Homo sapiens: one gene and its partner. The protein of the gene in region 1 interacts with the protein of each later gene in a pairwise test. Each region holds a gene or a part of one and is shown in the gene's direction. Other genes may lie near its edges.

Region 1 (3,500 bases):
AGAGGCTATCATGGTATTGGTGCTTGGCCACAAAGTCTTAACTTGCCATGTTAGTCACCCACTAGGTGCATTGCTCAGTTATGCTGTAGGCTTTTTTCCCCCATAGGGTTTTGAAAAGAGTAAAAAAATGTGGAGAATGGGGCCTCTATTGATTATTCAATGAGTATTCAGTGCTGGCTTGTGTAAAAGTGCACAGTTGTGCACACTATAGAAAATAGTCTTTGACTATGACGAGTTTACTATGGCTACACAAAGTTTGTGGGGTTTTTTGTTGTTGTTTTTTGTTTTTTTGAGACAGGGTCTTGCTCTGTTGCCCACGCTGGAGTGCAGCGGCGTGATCTCTGCTCACTGCAACCTCCACCTCCTAGGTTCAAGTGATTCTCCTGTCTCAGCCTTCTGAGTAGCTGGGATTCTAGGTATGCACTACCACACCCAGGTAATTTTTGTAATTTTGTATTTTTGAAACCCCAGTATGGGGTTTCGCCGTGTTGGCCAGGCTGGTCTTGAACCCCTGACCTCAGGTGATCCACCCGCCTTGGCCTCCCAAAGTGCTGGAATTACAGGCATGAGGCACTGCGCCTGGCATTACACAAAGTGGTGGTGGTGGTGTTGGTGTTTGAGATGGAGACTTGCTCTGTTGCCCAGGTTGGAGTGCAGTGGCGTGATCTCAGCCCTCTGCAACCTCCGCCTTCTGGGTTCAAGCAATTCTCCTGCCTCAGCCTCCCAAGTAGCTGGGATTACAGGTGCCCGCCACCACGCCCGGCTAATTTTTTTGTATTTTTAGTAGAGATGGGGTTTCACCATGTTGGCCAGGCTGGTTTCGAATTCCTGACCTCAAGTGATCCACCCGCCTTGGCCTCCCAAAGTGCTAGGATTACAGGCATGAGCCACTGCGCCCGGCCTACACAAAGTTTTTTAACCCACCAATCCCTTTAACGTTTTTGTTTAGAATAGTCTGTGCAACAAACAGTTTTGATAGAAGTCTTGGAACAGCGCAGTCCAATATTTTCTGATTTTGGCTTATTCAATTGTAGGGAAACAAATATTTAAATCTGTATAGTGTTAGTCGTCTTTTTGCATTTTTCTATTTCTATCTACCGTCTTTTTCATAAGGACAAGGGAATATGTTATCTTAAATGTCCTTTAAAATTTGCATGGCATTGGGAAAGAGTGACTTAATCTGTTAAAAAACTGGTAACAATGCCATTTGTCACCATTATAGAATTTCGATTATTCATGTAATATTGAATAGTGTACTGACATGTCTGCGTGTTTTCATTACCCCTCTTGTTTTCGAAGTTGGAGTGCTTAGTGCAGTTGGTGAGAGCGGGAGCCACACTCAACGTCTCCACCACACGGTACGCGCAGACGCCAGCCCACATTGCAGCCTTTGGGGGACATCCTCAGTGCCTGGTCTGGCTGATTCAAGCAGGAGCCAACATTAACAAACCGGTAAGAGTGCTGGTGATGGACTTGGTTTGCTTTTGCTTTTTCTTTTTGCAGTTATAATTATACACGGTATTGCTTTAAATCGAGGCCTTAATTAGAGTTTGATATCTTTACCTGAGGGCAGACTGGAATTTATGTTTCTTCAGTTGTTTGTGGAGGATAGTAGGCCCTTTCCATAGGAATGCTTTCTGTTCATAGAGTGCTTTCACCTGTTGTGTGATAAACTGATCCAGGGTGATGTGCCCAAGGTTATAGCTGGTAATTAAAGGAGCCTGGCCTTGAGCCCAGGTTTCCTGGCTTTCTACTCATAGCTGCCTTAGCCTCATTTCCACAGATAATTATGAAAACATTTTCATCCTGGGAAAAGCATGGCTATTAAGTCAGCTCCAAAGTGAGCTTCAGATACAAGTTGATGCCTTGATGCAGATAAGTGCTAAGTATCATTTACTAAGTGGGAAGAGTAAGTGACTTGAGGACTTGGTATTTAAACATACTGACAGGAACATAATCGTGCCAGATTTTTCTTCATGGTGTGTTTTCAGTATCATTTCACCTAAACCAAACACACACGCATTCAGATTGTTAGGTACTTAGTTGTGTGAGACAAGCAGCATCTAATAACCATTAGGTTGTCTGACTGGGAGCAGTCCCTAGACTCAGCGTCCTTTGCTGCAGATGGATTAGTCCTTAGACTAATTGATAATTTTCATCTCTTAAGACCTGGGCATGGGCTCTGGGAGCTGGTTTTTATGCCTTTTTTACTCCTATCTTTAAATGCTTTATAGTCATCAAGGTCTTGGATGCAAAGTCGTCTTTCTACTTTTCTTTCCCAAGATTCAGTCCTTCATGATAACCAGGCATAAGGTTGTTGCTAGTCCCTCTTCTAAAAACCCAGCTACCCACCTGAGCAGTAAGTAATTGAGAAAGAAGGTGTTTTTAGCCATGATTTAAAACAAGGATCAATGGGAAAGTGGGGTAAGTTATAAGGCAGTTTGTCCCCTTAAAAGATGTGAAGTAGAAAAGAAAATGGAAGGTGGCCAAGAGTTGAGGCCTGTTTGTTACTAAACTGAAATGTGGGATATGGGACAAGTTTTAAGGTTGTGCTGCCACTTCTCTCCTTCCATCTCCACACGTGTGCCTTTACATAATGTATATTTCTCTGCTGCTCTGTTGCTTGTCTTCATAAATTCGAGAGTTATGAATTACCTACTCAATACCCTTATGTGCTGGGCAGCGCCTTGTGTTTTTCCTTCTTCCCTACCCCTGTCCCCTGGTAGAAAGGGCAGTGTGGGCTTGATTCCTTGGGCAAGTCATTAACTTTGTGGCTCAATCTCTTTATCAGTAAAATACAGTTAATAATTCCATGAATGGCAGTAATTAATAGTATGGAATTTAAGTATATCATTTTTGTAGGTTAATTTTCATCAAATTGTTACATAGCATCTTATTTAGAGAGGACTAGAGAAATTGTCTAACACTGCTTTCCAGACCTTTTTAAATCAAGAAGCCCCCTTTTCAAAGTGTCTTATGGCAGTTCAGTATTTTCAGTAGATAAAGGGAGTGAGGCAGAAAGTGTGCTGCTGGGTCTCCCACCTTCCTCTCAGATGCCTCTAGATAACACCTCCTGGAAACTTCTACCGCACTCTGCTTCTTCCCAGGCAGGATCCTAAAATCTTTTTCTTTTCAGCCCTCCCTGTATTTGAAGTATCCGGGTAGACATTTCCAAGTCCTCACATGTGCCTAGTGCATATCATTTGGCATTGTAAAGCATCCTGGAATTTCTCCTTAGTGTATCTTAGGTAGTTGTGGTCTGCTGGCATGTGGAGTTTACATCCGAATCTGAGGCATCATCTCACTCTATTATGTAGTGGGTGAATTTCAACACCTCTTGTTATGGGCACCCAGTGACTCTAGAGGACACAATAGCCCTTTTGTTAGCTCCCCACCCCGCCTACCTGCTGACTCATCTCCAGGTAGACAGTTTCTCTCATTTCTCATATAAACTCAGGATGCCAAATCCAATCCAGGTTTTTCTCCTTTGTTGTGTCCAT
Region 2 (2,427 bases), on another chromosome or scaffold:
GAATTTATTGACGTTCCGGGTTTTTAAGCTTGCAAAGTGCTAATCCTGGGCTGCTGGCTTTTTGTTTTATTTTTTTTCTATTTGTTTAGTTTTTGAAAAACGGCCGCGGTATTTTTTTCTAATTAGACCCCTCTCATTCTACTTTGGCACCAGGGGAGAAGCCCTTCAAGTGCGAGTTTGAGGGCTGTGACCGGCGCTTCGCTAACAGCAGCGACCGCAAGAAGCACATGCACGTGCACACGAGCGACAAGCCCTATCTTTGCAAGATGTGCGACAAGTCCTACACGCATCCCAGTTCGCTGCGCAAACACATGAAGGTAATCGCCGCACTCTCGTCGCCCCCTTTGAGGCAGGAGCTCTCTTGGCTCTCGGCTTGGGGTCGGGCGGCGAGTGGCAGACAGGCGGTGGCGGGAGCCAGAGGAAGCGGGAAGGCAAAGGTTCCACTCAGTGGAACTGGGCAGAGAAGGTAGGGCGGGACCTGGAAAAGGGGATGGGAGTGTCCAAGGCCGTTTTAAATTTTTGGTTTAATAATAAAAGTTAAAAGAGGCGAGTATGAGCAAAGGCCGCCACTGAATTTGGCCCAGAGCTAGGGCTTTTGCAGGGGGTTGACGCTGCGGAAACTGCTGCCCTTGCAGCTGCCAGTGAGACGCAAGAATTGGACTCCTGCGCCCAGGCCTGAGCTCTGGCTCACCTAAACATGGACAAGCAAAGTTCAGGGAAAGAAAGTGCAGTCTCTGGCCTCATATCCAGTCTCCCTCTTCCCAGACCTATTTTTCTTTTGTGAGTCTTGGGGACCCTGACTTTCCCAGGAGCACGGTTTCTGCAGGCCTGTGCAGAGAAACCAAGCCCAAAGTCCCGCTGATCGGGCCTCACCTGTGTTCAGGGGGCTCCAAGGGGTCCAGGAGGAAGGGCACTCGCGGCCTTCGCCTCTCTAGTCGGCCGCCGCACTGGCTCTTTATGTCCGTAAAAACGCGACTTTATTCCTGCAGGTCCACGAATCCTCCTCGCAGGGCTCGCAGCCTTCGCCGGCCGCCAGCTCTGGCTACGAATCCTCCACGCCTCCCACCATCGTGTCTCCCTCCACAGACAACCCGACCACAAGCTCCTTATCGCCCTCCTCCTCCGCAGTCCACCACACAGCCGGCCACAGTGCGCTCTCTTCCAATTTTAACGAATGGTACGTTTAAAATCAGAAACAAAACATCGAACAAAACCCTATTTAAGAGACTGATCACACACGTATACACAACATTACTGAAAGAACCCTGCGAATCAAAACAACCCCCACACAGACCCCGCAATCCTTTTTTAAAAAATCTGCCAATAGACCCAGGACGAGTAAGAGAGGAAGCATCAACCTTTTAAAAATTTCCTTTCGCTTTCATTATTTTTCTTTTTTTGGCAAAGGCTTGGTACCCAAGGTGCGGTAGGGGGTCGAGGGGGAGGAGGCCACCTGACCAAATGCCGCCAACCCCGAGGGCCAGTTTCTTGTCGAATTGGTACGGGCTCTCTGGGGCTTCGGCTTCTTTTTTTCTTTGTTTTCTTGTAAATACAGAATTATTAGCTTAAAACTGTACTGTTGAATTCTGTAAATAGTTATATCTCGGTTGGAGCGGGTGGGTGGGATTGTGGCGTTGTGGTCTTTGCATTGGGGGAGGGGGGAGGGACCGGATGGGCGGGGGGAGGGGGAGGGGGAGGGGTGGGCGGCCGAAAGCCAACTGTTTGTACTGAATGGCAAGAATGTTCTAGTAAATGTGTACCAAAATGTGAATTACTTTGTACGATTACAGTCTCCACGTCGACCTAACCCAATATTATTGGTATTAATGTGCTTTTTTTGTATAAAGTGCAAACATTTCGTCCCAAAGTCTAAGTACTTTAGTGCAGTAAAATGTTGTTTCATGTCCTGTCAAGAATTCGTATAGTACGAGCCTGGATCTGCGTGTCAAACTGTTCCATTTGTTTATGTAAAGTGATATTAAAAAAGATATAAACTATAACTGTCCGTTACTTTTGGCAAAAGATACAACCACATAATGTATATAATTCCTAGTTTCCATATTTATCCGCATGTAAAGGGCCGGTTTATCCATGTTACAGCTCTTCAATATTTATGGCTAGAAGAACTCGTATGTACACTTTAGTTTCCAGAACTGTTTGGTAACCTTTCGTACCTTATTAAAGATTCTTAAATCTCCGTGATTGTGGTAGGAATTTCTTCTTCACCCACCAGCAACCTGCTGCCTCTTCTGCCAGTCTTAAAGGGTCTCCAGAAAAGCTCTCCAGTCTCCCTTGCCTTCCCTTTCTGTCACTGCAGGTCGTATAAACGTGATAAATGAATGCTACCCTGCTGGCTCTCCGAGAGAGTGTAATTAGTATTTATATCAAAATTTATGAAACAAATTTTCGGCCGCAGTATAATTTAAA

Evidence for each region.
Region 2: the proteins of ANKRD10 (region 1) and ZIC1 interact in binary tests that used the Homo sapiens proteins (3 or more experiments, as listed by UniProt).

What each region holds. Positions count from the first base shown.
Region 1 is NC_000013.11:110,908,570-110,912,069, reverse strand, and holds part of ANKRD10 (ankyrin repeat domain-containing protein 10), read left to right. Parts: intron 1-1,299; coding exon 1,300-1,452; intron 1,453-3,500.
Region 2 is NC_000003.12:147,412,365-147,414,791, forward strand, and holds part of ZIC1 (zinc finger protein ZIC 1), read left to right. Parts: intron 1-153; coding exon 154-317; intron 318-989; coding exon 990-1,187; 3' UTR 1,188-2,427. UniProt on the Homo sapiens protein: Acts as a transcriptional activator. Involved in neurogenesis. Plays important roles in the early stage of organogenesis of the CNS, as well as during dorsal spinal cord development and maturation of the cerebellum.